Linked DNA regions of Homo sapiens. The protein of the gene in region 1 interacts with the protein of each later gene in a biochemical or structural test. Each region holds a gene or a part of one and is shown on either strand. Other genes may lie near its edges.

Region 1 (7,043 bases):
TGATAAATTAGTTCCAATTTCTGAACTTGAGTCATGTCCATTAACTTCAGGTAACCTCAATCTTCTCATCCCTTCCCTTCTCCTTTCTTGTGAGATGCAAGGCAGAAAATACTTTAGAAAATCCAAGGTTGTAATCTGCTTTAGATCATTCTCATCATTCTTACTACTTATTATTCTAACATTCAACCTGTATACCAGCAGTCTAACTGGACGGAATAGATCTCTTACAATGGTCAAGTGTTACTTAAATGTTTTACTTTTTTTATACGTATCAAATTTCACAAATAAATTGTTTTAAAACCCAACTGCTTATTATTCCCACTTAGTTTGTATGAAATGCAACTGGGAGAAAACATTTGGGAACAATAAAAACTATAGATTAAATTAGGGACATAGATAAATGCTGCAGACATCAGTAGTTTATTGTTTGTTTAGTCCAAACACATTCAATATGGAAACTCAAAGAATACTTTCCACCTGAAACAATTAAACTAGATTCTACTAGCATATAATGCTTAACACATTACAGCAATAAAGATGGTAATCCATTGTCTTCTATACCTACTAAAGCCAAGATGGTAAAGCCAATTTGGTTGCAATAGTGTCATAAGGATAGAATATTACCATCAAAAAATAAAACAAAATCAGCAAATAACAGTAATGGTAGATGAATATTTTTACTCTGTTTCACTGAAAAGAGGACAAAATGTTAAAACTCCACAGTACTGCAGGTGAACAATCACCATGTAAACTTCTCCATATGATGTTTTAATGTTTTATTCATGGTATGTAAAGACTGAAGCTGAATGGCTCTTTGCTCTACTTTTCTATTATTACACTTAACATTTGTCATTACTTTTGGTGCCAGAACAGTTTTCATGGATGGCAGGGCAATATCCTGAATTGGAAATTATATATATATATATATATATGGAAACAGAAATACAAGAAAATATGCTTGGGGGAAAAAAAACATTGACAATAAAACAACTGCTTCTTTAAAAGTAGTATTAATAAAGGCTTCAAAACTCCAAAGTAATTTTCTGGTAAGAATTTCAAGTACTATATCAGAAAGTATAAAACTGTTTCAAACAGAAAAAAAAAAAATCCTTAAGCCCCCCAAAAATGGAAACTATGAAAATCTGTGTCCCCAAAATATATGCAATAGTGCAAGACTTTCCCTCAAACATGGAAGACCTCATTCAAAGGGGGAAAAAGGGACAGATTTTACTCATATTGCCCAGTACATGAAAAACAAAATACATGCATCATTTGCTAGTTTACTAAATAGCAAACAGTTGCATAATTCAGAACCAATTTGCTACTATGTCAAGTGCATATCTTGTCTGTTTTACAAAGATAGAATGGAGAAGTCTTCCATGCTAACGAGCAGCTTTAAGTGGTCACACTTATTTACCCCACTCCTGCCTGAAACATCAGAAACTGGTATGTACTGACTGCTCCAAGCATAAAATTGGATAAGCTTTGCCATACTTGTGGTTTACTGGAACTTGCTATAAAGACAGACAATAATCCAGCAGCTACAAACTTTGCTCACAGAATTGTTTAAAGATTCATGTAAAAATAAAAGATGTCGTCCCAGACTTAAATTCAGGAGCCACTCGGGTGCTGACATCAGTTCAAGAATTGTGCAAAATGAATGACAGTTCCCTGCCCCCCAAATAGAAAATGCAAACACTTAAAGAGCTGCTGTTCTTTTCTCCGAAAATTGCAGTATCCTCACTTCAGGCTTACTTGCCATTTATAGAATCTGACTGCTTTTAAAATGTCACTAAAAATGTACGTCAAGTTGACTGACTTTTCCAAGCCCTGAAGTGATATGTTTCAACGTCCACATTCAGGCTAAGAGAAAAGTCAACTAGAGGCTTACTCAAATAACTGACTTCCTCCTTCCCTCTCCCCACAAACACACAGGACTCCCTCCCTCCCACAGAGAACACAAAGTTGTTAACTGAAGAACAAGATAAATAATATGCTAGTCCATTTTACTGATTTTAAAGATACTGCAATTTTTATACATTTCGATGATTTTTCAACATTTTGCAGCTGTTTGGCTTTGCAGCACAGCAATTCATACACTATACTGTACAAAATTACCAGCAAGACTGGAATGATGTATTAATAGAAGGCACCATCATGCTTATTACATTACCAGAGAACAAAAATACAGTAAAGACAATTTTCACTGTACACAGCTTAAAGAAAGGAAAAAAGGGGAGGAGGAGTGTGTTGAGCAGCCAGCCATCCCTGTACTGAAGAGGGGCAGGTAGAAAAATCTTAGATATGGAGCTACTAAATCTGGTCTAATAGTCAAGACCATCGCATTTGAAGTTCTAATTTTTATTATTTAGTTCATAACTAAAATGATTTCCTTCTGGAATATACTTGTAGTCTTGTTAAGGTTTATGTGTACACACGCTGGTCACAGCAAGCAGATAAAATGCCCTCATCATTTCACAAACTATTTTCTACTGGAAAAGAAGATGAGATTTTTTCCCTGTTGCCTCCTGTTGCAGATGTCAATGTTAATGAGTTCAGAGTACCCATTAGTACATTTTGATGAGTGCATAACAAGTTTCTGTTGGTTTGTATTTTTGGGGGGAGCCAAGAAAAAAGGCAAGATTCTCCAATTGCACAAATTGCACTATTTGTGTTCCCAGCATTAACAGGCAGAAACAGTAACACTTAAACAAAATGTGCAGCAGAAGATTTTTTTTTTACTCAAAGGACCTGAATTCAGTGGGCATGTCCTTTTAAGTTCACTTTGTCGTAGATAGTTTAAGATATGGTCATTTCTCAGTCCTTAATTCTCCAAGTCTAGATTTATAAATTAACAATGTGAATCCTGTTGTGAAATTGGGGAAATAATGTCCACCTCAATTTAACTGATAACCAAAGATGCTTTTCACATCAAAGAAATGATCAAAAAGGCTGTGTCACATTCCAAAGCCAAAAAAAAAATTAACAAGAATGCAAACACGATGAATAATGTACCACTGCCAAGACTTTGCCAACAGTGGAGCTTCAGCGACGCTGTCCTGTGAAGCGGCCCTCCATTTGCCCGGTTCCTCTTCCAGAGCCAAGTTTCTGTGCCATGCCACCCCTTGGAGGAGGTCCTCTTCCATCACGATCACGCATCATTCCACCACCCACAATTCCACGTGGACCACCGGGACCTCGATCATTGCGCCTAATATCCCTGCGATCATCACCACCACCTCTGGTTTCTCGCTCTCTTGCAGCTCTTGTTTTTTTCTCTTCCACATTTAAACGTACTTCCCCTCGAAACATAATCGGCTTTATAAAAGAGAAGAAAAATATTTACATGGGCAGGTTAGACAGCAATAGAAATGATTACTCTGAACAGGTCAGTCAGATAAGCATAAGGAATAAAACACTTTTATCAGCCCCCCACCCCCCAGAGATAGGGTCTCAGCTGTCACCCAGGCTGGTGACAGCCAGTGGCACAAGCATGGCTCACTGCAGCCTTGACATCCTGGGCTCAAGTGATACTCCCACCTCAGCCTCCTGAGTAGCTGGGATTATAGGTGTCTACCACCATGGCCGGCTATTTTTCTTTTTTTGTAGAGACAATGTCTCACTGTTGCCCAGGCTGGTCTTGAACTCTCCTGGGCTCAAGCAATCCTTCTGCCTTAACTTCCCAAAGTGCTGGGATTACAAGTGTGAGCCACTATACCCAGCCAAAATTCTTAACATGCAATCTTGCAATCTTTCCCACCTTCTTCAGCAAAGCAAGTAACAAAATTTAAAATGATCTGCAAACTAACAAATCTTTATTCTTTGCATAAATACCATTTAATAACTATTTTTAGCTTTATTATTAAAAGATTTTCTATGGTTTTTAAATACCCCAAATTAATATATACAACAGAAATAATAAAGTCTTGAATTATGCCCTTTAAATCACTTACTTTTGCAATTAAGATTCTCTGAACTGGTTCAGAGTCATCAAAAACCACAAAACCAAAATTTGGAAGCTTTCCCCCAACACCCTTGGTATTGATGCGAAGTTCCACAACGTTTCCAAAACCTGTGAAAATATACATTACATCAAGGGTTAAATATTTTTAACAGAATACCTTGATGGCTCTAATTGTTCAGGATGAATATCGTTATCTCCCCGATCCATTTTAAAATAAAACTCGCAAGCTTCTACACACAGTGATAGCCAAGGTACGTTTACTCAAGCAGGCAATCCCCTAAGATACCAAGTAGCCTGCCCGCCTGCTGTGTTACCTTTCTGCATCTTTGGTAGTCCTTTCATAAGTAAAGTTAACTGCATAATTTTGGAAAGACAATGTATTTTCTCCTAATATATTGACCCATTTGCCAAATGAATCCTTTATCTCTGAATTTATGACTGATTTATCCAGCTGTTTCTTCTAAACACTACTGAGCCAGGCCAAATCAACACTAAGCAGTCACTGAGAAACATGTGAGATAAGTCATCTACTCCCTTCTGCACAATTAAGGTGGGTCTGGTAGCTGGACACAGTATAAAGAGAGAAACATTTAAAAAAAATAGTTATTAAAAAAGCTCCATATGCCTCTTGCTTAATTTAAAATAATTTAAAAACTCCAACAGCAAAATAAATCACTTACTCATGAAGAATTCCTTTAGCTCATTTTCATCAATATCATGTGGCAAGTTACCAACAAAAAGTTGATGACTATCTGGATAGCGAATTATTCTACGGTTGTCAGAGTCATTCTGTTCCATATCTCCTCTGCCTGAGAATAGAAATAGAGCAGATACTAAAGTTTACAATATCATAAAAACTACTTCAAAGGAGTGAATGTAAAAATCACTTAATATTGATATTCCTGTTTTAGTTTAATAAGACTAGGTGAGCTTCTTGAAAAAGAGGCAAAAGTACTTATTACTAGTAGGTTAGAAAACAGCATGACACTAAAATGTAAAGTGAGGACAATGACTAGGTTGCTAAAATAGCTTCTTCTAGATCTACTGGATTATACAAAAATCAAATATTAGTACTACAGGTATTCCTCCTTAACCAAACTGTTGCCATCACCCAGGAACCAAGCAGATTTCAGATAGTGAGGTATAGCTTACTAAATATTTGCTTAGTTTTTTGAAATTCAAAATTCTTTGGCTTTATGACATTACAGCAATCAGTAAATTTTAACAGCAATCATCACATTTATGCAGTCTATACATATTAAGTGTGTATGTATATAGATATACATAAAATCTTATTTGATTCTCCCAATAACACAAGGAACACAGTGAGGAAAATAGGCAATACAAGAATAATTTGTGTAATATTTGACATAAAAGAAGCTCAGAATTTAAGGGTTTCACTCAAGATCCCAAGTTTAATCACTGACAAATTTAGGACTTCTAGTTTGGTAACATATCACTTTAAAAATTCACATTGTAAATGTGATATATACTATCTCCATCTCTCCCATCTCCTCCCCAAAGCAATCTAAACATTCTTACAGAGTTCAAATAAAAGTATTACATGTGTAGCTAACAAGGTAAACAAGTCAAAAATCATGGCAACTTACTTAATACCTAAGAATCAAAATGGGCTTATTGTTTATCTGTAAAGAGATAAGACTGCTAAGAGAGTAGGTTATTGGCAGCTTGGTTTTGAACTCTTAAAACCAGTGACTAGGCCGGGCACAGTGGCTCATGCCTGTAATCCCAGCACTTTGGGAGGACGAGTAGGGCAGATCATGAGGTCAGCAGATCGAGACCATCTTGGCCAACATGGTGAAACCCTGTCTCTACTAAAATACAGAAAATTAGCTGGGCCTGGTGGCGTGTGCCTGTAATCCCAGCTACTTGGGAGGCTGAGGCAAGGGAATCATTTGAACCCGGGAGACAGAGGTTGCAGTGAGCTGAGATCACGCCATTGTACTCCAGCCTGGCGACAGAGCAAGACTCCGTCTCAAAAAAAAAACAAACAAACAAAAAAAAAAAACAAAAAACCGTGACAATAACCAAATAAGACTTAAGTCTTTTACACCTTCAAAATATGTCACCATGGCATGTCAACCAATCCTCCCTAAAAATTGGTTATTTGGCCCCAGACACTATTTAGCAGGTTGCTCACATCACATCTTTAAGCAATTTGAGACTATATGGGTCTGTGTATAGAACGCATCATAGTTTTTTGTTTAAGTTCAGTCTTTTACAGCCTTACAAATGTTAAATGCTAAAGGCTATAAAGGAGCTGACTCACCTGGTCTTGGTCCTCTAGGAGGAAAACCAGGTCGTTCTCTAGGTCGTTGTTCACGCACACGAGGTGGCTGAGATTGAACTTCTGGTTTAGCTTCGACTCTTGGCTAAAATATAAAGAAAAAAAAACATTATAAAAAACACTCCACTGGAGAAAAACCAACCAAAGCACCTAACGACAAGTCACTAGCAGACATAACAGTAGTTTTAAGTTTAGAATGTTTTTAACATAGTGTCCTATGTATGAGAAAAATAAATTTTTATCAAGATATTCTGTACCAATCTAGGACTGTAGGTAGCTTTTGTTTTCCCACTTAATGCTGTGTAACTCACAATAAGTTGCTTTTTACAGTCACATTTTTTCATTAAAGTTATATCAACACTGAAATAGCATAAAAGGTATTGCTACCAAAAAAAAAAATCACAAAAATGCAAGATGAACCACTCCATGTAAATACATAAACAAAATTAAAAGCCATCTTCATCTTAGACAAGAATACATAACACATAATTTCTGAAAATCTAATTTGCTATCCTTCAAATGTAACAGTGCTCAGTAGTATTGCCTAAATCTCTGCCCATAACCTTAAAATCAGTATTTTTATAGTTCAAAGTATAAAAATTAGCTTGCTCTAACACCTGAAATTGCTACCTGTAAGGTTAAAATGCATGTTAAAAAAATGACAGAAACTTATAGGAACTTGTATGTAGCATCTCAAATAGTTAAAGTCCTTTAGCTCCCTACTGTTCTTCCTTATGAGAAAAATATGCATTTGAAGTATTGGTCCCAACG
Region 2 (7,043 bases), on another chromosome or scaffold:
ACAGGTGCGAGCCACTACACCCGGCTAATTTGGGTATTTTTTGGTAGAGACAGGGTTTCACCATGTTGGCCAGGCTGGTCTCCAACTCCTGGCCTTAAGTGACCCGCCTGCATCGGCCTCCCGAAGTGCTGGGATTGCAGACATGAGTCACCACGCCTGGCCTAGGATTTCTTCTTTTAAGGCTGAATAATGGTCCAGTGTATGTATATACTATATTTTGTTTATCCATTCATCTGTGGATGGACATACGGGTTGCTTATACCTTCTGGCTATTCTGAATAATGCTGCTATGAACATGGATGTATAAATATCTCTTCAAGATGCTGCTTTCAGTTCTTTCGAATATACACCCAGAAGTAGAATTGCTGGATCAAATGATATTTCTATTTTCAAGTTTCTGAGGAACCCACCATACTGTTTACTGTAGTGGCTGCACCATTTTACATTACCACCAACAATGCACAAGGGTTTTAATCGCTCCACATCCTCACCAGCACTTACTAATCTCCATACCCTCACCAACACCTATTATTTTGTTTTTTGTTTTGTTTTGACAATGAGAGACCCCCTAATGAGTGTGAGGTGTATGTTATTATGGTTTTGGTTTGTGTTTCCCTGATTACTAGTGACGTTGAGCATCTTTTCATGTGCTTCTTGCCCATTTATATATTTTCTTTGGAGAAATGTCTTTTTTTTTTTTTTTAAGAGACAGGGTCTCTCTGTTACCCAGTCTGAAGTACAGTGGTACAATCCTGTCTCACTACAGTCTCAACCTTCTAGACTCAAGCAGTTCTCCTGCCTCAGCTGCTTCAGCCTGCTGAGACTATAGGTGCAGACCATGACACCCAGCCAATTTTTTTTTTCTTTTTCATTTTGTTGGGACAGGGTCTCACTGTGTTTTCCAGTCTGGTCTTAGACTCCTGGGCTTAAGCACTCCTTCTGTCTCGGCCTCTCAAAGTTCTGGGGTTGCAGGCATGAGCCACAGTGTCCAGCCCCATGTCTTTTTTTTAATCAGGTTTGGTTTTTTTTGTTGAGTTGTTTGTATTTTCTGGATATGTCAGATACGTGATTTGCAAATGTTTATTCCCATTCTGTGACTTGTCTTTTCACTCTGTTGATTGCAAGCTTTGATGCACAGAAGTTTTAAATTTTGATGTGATCCAGTTTATCTATTTTTATTTTTGTCTCTGAATCATAGAGTTTTGAACACATGGCATGTATGCCTCTACACAGGTTTTCAGGTTTGTTTGTTTTTGAGATGGAGTCTCGTTCTGTTGCCCAGGCTGGAGTGCAATGGCACAATCTCAGCTCACTGTAACCTCCACCTCCTGGATTCAAGTGATTCTCCCACCTCAGCCTCCTGAATAGCTGGGATTATGGGCACCTGCCATCATGCCCAGCTAATTTTTGTATTTTTGTAGAGATAAGGTTTCACCATGTTGGCCATGGCAAGTCTCGAACTCCTGACCTCAGGAGATCCGCCTGCCTCGGCCTCCCAAAGTGCTGGGATTACAGGCATAAGTCGCCTTGCCTGGCCAGGTCTTCAGGTTTTATCCTGTCCTTTCCTCTTTTTCCATTTCCTTGCAATACCTTCCCATTTCTGCCTTTGCTCAACTTTGCTCCGCCTGGTGAACTTTAAAGCTCCAGTTAGAAAGCTCTCTGGAGGGGTATTTCAGCAGAAATTGTTTTCATAGGTGTAGTCTCCTACAACTATAATAGAAGTAGTCACACTGTGTCACTTATTATACTAAGTCCCTAATTCTGTCACCCTCAATTATGAACTTTTATGGAACAGGAGTTTTCTCTATTGCCAAGTACCCAATATCTGGCCCATAGTAGGCAATCACATCTGTTAATGGAATAAATAAGTGTGTCATTTTTATTCCTCAACTTTTTAACTTAGCACTGACTTTCTTTTTCTTTTTCTTTTTTTTTTTTTTAAATGGAGTTTCCCTCTTGTTGCCCAGGCTGGAGTGCAGTGGGGCAATCTCGGCTCACTGCAACCTTTGCTTCCTGGGTTCAAGCGATTCTCCTGCCTCAGCCTCCCGAGTAGCTGGGATTACAGGCATGCGCCCCCATGCCCAGCTAATTTTGTATTTTTAGTAGAGATGGGGTTTCTCCATGTTGGTCAGGCTGGCCTTGAACTCCTGACCTCAGGTGATCCATCCGCCTCGGCCTCCCAAAGTGCTGGGATCATAGGTGTGAGCCACCGCACCCGGCCTCTTTTATTTATTTATTTTTTTGACGGAGTTTCGCTCTTGTCACCCAGGCTGGAGTGCAGTGTGCAATTTCGGCTCACTGCAATCTCCGCCTCCCAGGTTAAAGCAGTTCTTCTGCCTCAGCCTCCCCAGTAGCTGGGATTACAGGCACCCAGTAGCTGGGATTACAGGAGCCCACCACCACTCCCGACTAATTGTGTGTGTGTGTGTGTGTGTGTGTGTGTGTGTGTGTGTGTGTGTGTGTGTGTGTGTTTGAGATGGAGTCTGGCTCTCTCACCCATGCTGGAGTACAGTGGCACGATCTCGGCTCACCACAACCTCTGCCTCCCGGGTTCAAGTGATTCTCCTGCCTCAGCCTCCAAGTAACTGAGATTTCAGGTGCATGTTAGCATGCCTGGCTAATTTTTGTGTTTTTAGTAGAGACGGGTTTTCACCATGTTGACTAGGCTGGTCTGGAACTCCTGATCTCATGATCCAGCCGCCTCAGCCTCCCAAAGTGCTGGGATTACAGACGTGAGCCTCAGCCTCCCAAAGTGCTGGGATTACAGGCGTGAGCCTCAGCCTCCCAAAGTGCTGGGATTACAGGCATGAGCCTGTAATTAGACTGCACCTGGCCTAATTTTTGTATTTTTAGTAGAGACGGAGTTTCCCCATATTGCCCAGGCTGGTCACAAACTCCTGATCTCAGGTGATCTGCTGGCCTCACCTCCCAAAGTGCTGGGATTAGAGGCGTGAGCCACTGTGCCTGGGTCAGCACTGATTTTCGTGTCTAAACTCAAAAAAAAAAAAAAAAAAAACCTCTGCTCCCACTATTTTTTCCTTTCTTCTATATAGAGAAGAGAACACTCAGTTTTACAAACCAAAAGAACCCTTTGGAATCTTTGTCACCCTCGTTTCAGTCATTGTTTGCTCAGAGAGCTTTCTTCAGTGCAGCAGCAATAAAGCCGTATATTCAAGATTTACAGCCAGCCTTTGCAATTCCCTTCGCCGACTGCTCAGGATTTAAGGAATGGTTCTTTCATTCTTTAGGTCTCTGTATTCCTTTAGTAAATGCTAAAGCATTTACTAAATGCAAAAGCTAATTATTTAAATTTAGTAAAAGTAGCATAACTTTTGAAAAAGGGGGGCTAGGGATCCCCCTAGGCTAGAAGAGTTTGATTTATTGTTACTTTTGGGTTGATGGCAGCCTTTTTGGTGAGGTCTGTGCTGGAAAGCTAACTTGTACCATTAGACCTCACTAAATGCTTTCCTAAGTGTGAGGAGGTGATACTTAAAAAGACTGGAACAATTTTATACCAAAACTGGGACATGGATGTGCCTTCTGCAGTTTGAATATAAAAGAAAGTCATTTTTGTTTTCTTTCCAAGGCCATGGAAATAGCATCTCAAAGGACCAAGGAAGAACGGTCTAGCCAAGATCATGTGGATGAAGAGGTAGGATTTATTATCTATTCACAGCCTTTGGAAACACTTGTGTTTTGAGGGTTTTTTTTTTTATGTTGCTAGAGCATAAACTTGATTTAAATAGATAAGCAGCTTTTTCAAATGATGGTAATATTTCCTTAAGATATATTATAGTAAATGATTTAAGTGAGCCAAGTTGGATAGTTTACATTTCACTGTATTGGTCCACTCAGCAACCTGTTAGCCCATTGTCCTAGATGGAGAAAATTTTTAAAGAGCCTGTTAGGATATAGGCGTCAAGAAGGAAAAGCCTGTTTTTAATTTGCAAATGTGAGTTTTTAAATGACTTAAATATTGATTCTAGAAATGTTATAGATTTTAAATATTATGCTTTGATAAAAACGAGTCAGGGTGTTTTTTTGTGAAGGAGCCATAGTAGGCTTTTAAAAAAAATTCTCACAACTCTTAATGGTTGACTATGAGGTGCCCTGTGTTTGTCGGCAGCTCTCCACCTTTTTCACTGTAGCAGCTGGGTATGTTTCGTAAGGCATAGCCAGGCAGCGCTTGCCAACTGTAATTCCGCCCCTTTCCCTCCTGCTCAGAAAAGCTTTTTGGAACAAAAATGAAGGAGAAGTGTTATTCTAAGGATAATCTTGAATCAGCTCTAATGTTTTTTTTCCCTTCCTTAAAATAAATCATATGCAAAATTTAGTGTTCTATCATTAGTAGTGTTACTTTTGGGACACCACATCACAGATGGGATACCAGTGTGTGCAGACAGCTTAGCCAAGCATCAGTGTTAGGGATGAATGAATATATAGATTCCCCTGTAACCTGATGGAGGAGTATGCTGTGTGAATGTGAGAAGTGTATGAATAACAGTTTTGATTTTGCTTTTCCTCTCTGTTAGGTGTTTAAGCGAGCATATATTCCTAGAACCTTGAATGAAGTGAAAAATTATGAGAGGGATATGGACATAATTATGAAATTGAAGGAAGAGGACATGGCCATGAATGCCCAACAAGATAATGTAAGTAGCTTGGTTTGTATATAGCAAGCAGCTCTTCAAAAGTAGTAGGGGACTGTCCCAAACCTATCTGGGCCTTTTAAGTTCCCCTAATCTTGAATATTGGCTTCTGAGCTAGTGAAATGACTAACTCTATCTGTGTTAACTTGTGTGCACATTGAACGCAAAGGGAATTATTTGGAATTTATGAGAGGAGGTAACACATTTGAATGAATCCAACAAGCTGTAATTGTAGAAACAAGATTCAGATAGAAGTCTAGGCTATTAATGGTTATTATATTAGGTCCATTAACATATATTTCTTTAACATACATCATTCAGGAACAATTTCTTTTTGGTGAAGGGTCAGATAGTAAATATTTTAGGCTTTGCAAGCCAAGAAACAAAATTGAGGTGATTACGTAGGTCCTTATGTAACAAGAGAGAAAAAAATTCACCCTCAATTTTTATTCGTGAAATTAGAAATACTTTAATAATAGTTGAATACACTTTTGTGTAATACAAGTATACTAAAGAAGAGTGGAATTATTTGATGTGGGGCAGATAATATTTCACTTAATTGGGGCTCAAAGTTTGTGTTTGCTATCTTCAAATTGATTGCAAATGTTTATCTGTAAAAACTACCAGGTAGGCTGGGCGCAGTGGCTCACACCTGTAATCCCAGCCCTTTGGGAGGCTAAGGTGGGCGGATCACTTGAGGTCAGGAGTTCGAGACCAACCTGGCCAACATGGTGAAACCCTGTCTCTACTAAAAATACAAAAATTAGCCAGGCATGGTGGCGTGCTCCTGTAATCCAAGCTACTGGGGAGGCTGAGGCACGAGAATCACTTGAACCCGGGAGGCGGAGGCTGCGGTGAGCTGAGATTGCGCCATTGGACTTTAGCCTAGGCTACAGAGCGGAACTCTGTCTCAAAAAAAAAAAAGGCCCAGTACGGAGGCTCACACCTGTAATCTCAGCACTTTGGGAGGCCGAGGTGGGTGGATCACCTGAAGTCAGGAGTTCGAGACCAGCCTGGCCAACATGGTGAAACCTCGTCTCTACTAAAAATATAAAAATTAGCTGGGCATCGTGGCAGCTGTAATCCCTGCTACTCAGGAGGCTGAGGCAGGAGAATCTCCTGAACCCCAGGTGGTGGAGGTTGCAGTGAGCCAAGATCGCGCCACTGCACTCCAGCCTAGGCCACAAAGCAAGACTCCGTCTCAAAAAAAAAAAAAAACAACTACCAGGTGGCTGGTTGGATTTGGCCAGTAGATCTGGTAGACAGAAATAATATCAATATTATAAACTTCCTGTGTTACAGTGAGATTAATTTTAGATACCTTTTTATAATCATAGGAGACATTATTTAACCCACATTGTTCTTAATAGTGCAATATGCATATTTCATTGTCTAGTTTTATGTTGATCCTTATTTTTTTTTTTTCATTTTGGTTATAAGATTCTATACCAGACTGTTACAGGATTGAAGAAAGATTTGTCAGGAGTTCAGAAGGTATGAAGAACATGTGTTACTGTTTGTTTATGTGAAAACAGTTTTAAAGGATATAAACTCTAGTCATACTGTTTTTTATTATTATTTAATATTATTAGAACTAAATGTTATTTTATATTGTTAAAATGTTATAATTGCTTTCAAAGTCTGTGGACATCTTCAGAAATGCCATTTTTGTGTTCTTTCTAAACACAGCACTGAAATTTGGAAATTAATTTATTTTTCTTTCTGTCTCTGAATTGTTCAGTGATTGCAGGTGAGGTATTTATCTTTTTGTATCCTGGTCGTCATTTGTGGAGCTCTTAATGATAGCCATTGTGCTTCTTGATGGTTTTACAACCAGCTTAGGAGAACTTTGGAATGTAGTCTCCTACCAGGGTATTACTTGTTAAAGAACAATCTCATGAGTTCAGCAAGTCCTGCTGTGCTGGATTCCTGTGATGTTCTTTTTTCTTAAAACAATCTTGTTTTGTTTTACATTTTAGAAGGGCAGGGATTAAGTAATTCTAACTTAGGCAGTCATAAAAGCAGTCTTTATTTTTTTAAATCTTCCTAATTGAAGACTTAAATAAAGGATCACAGTTTGCTTTCTTAAAATCATGTCTTTTCTGTGGAAAGAATTGAATTAGGGGAATTCTGGTATTTTGCATTTCTGAGTTATAATAACAGGTGTCATAAGGAAGTTATGCTTTGGATTCCAGAGCATGAAGATTTTATTGCAGCAAGCTAGAAAATCTTGTTGTACAATTGACTTCTAAAGATCTGTTTTTTTCTTATAAAAGGGAAACCTCACTCTTAAAAACTGCTAGGAAGCGCTGTATTAGACAACTGCTGAATTTCAGGAAGTAATGAAAATTTCTCTTCTTCACATATTGTTTTCCCTCCCAATTGGATTAGTTT

What was found.
Region 2: the proteins of G3BP2 (region 1) and RIOK1 form a complex in vitro, tested with the Homo sapiens proteins (one study listed by BioGRID).

Annotation. Positions count from the first base shown.
Region 1 is NC_000004.12:75,642,385-75,649,427, forward strand, and holds the end of G3BP2 (ras GTPase-activating protein-binding protein 2), read right to left. Parts: intron 6,358-7,043; coding exon 6,255-6,357; intron 4,774-6,254; coding exon 4,645-4,773; intron 4,073-4,644; coding exon 3,954-4,072; intron 3,319-3,953; coding exon 3,046-3,318; 3' UTR 402-3,045; downstream 1-401.
Region 2 is NC_000006.12:7,406,800-7,413,842, forward strand, and holds part of RIOK1 (serine/threonine-protein kinase RIO1), read left to right. Parts: intron 1-3,586; coding exon 3,587-3,652; intron 3,653-4,532; coding exon 4,533-4,652; intron 4,653-6,089; coding exon 6,090-6,143; intron 6,144-7,043. UniProt on the Homo sapiens protein: Involved in the final steps of cytoplasmic maturation of the 40S ribosomal subunit. Involved in processing of 18S-E pre-rRNA to the mature 18S rRNA. Required for the recycling of NOB1 and PNO1 from the late 40S precursor.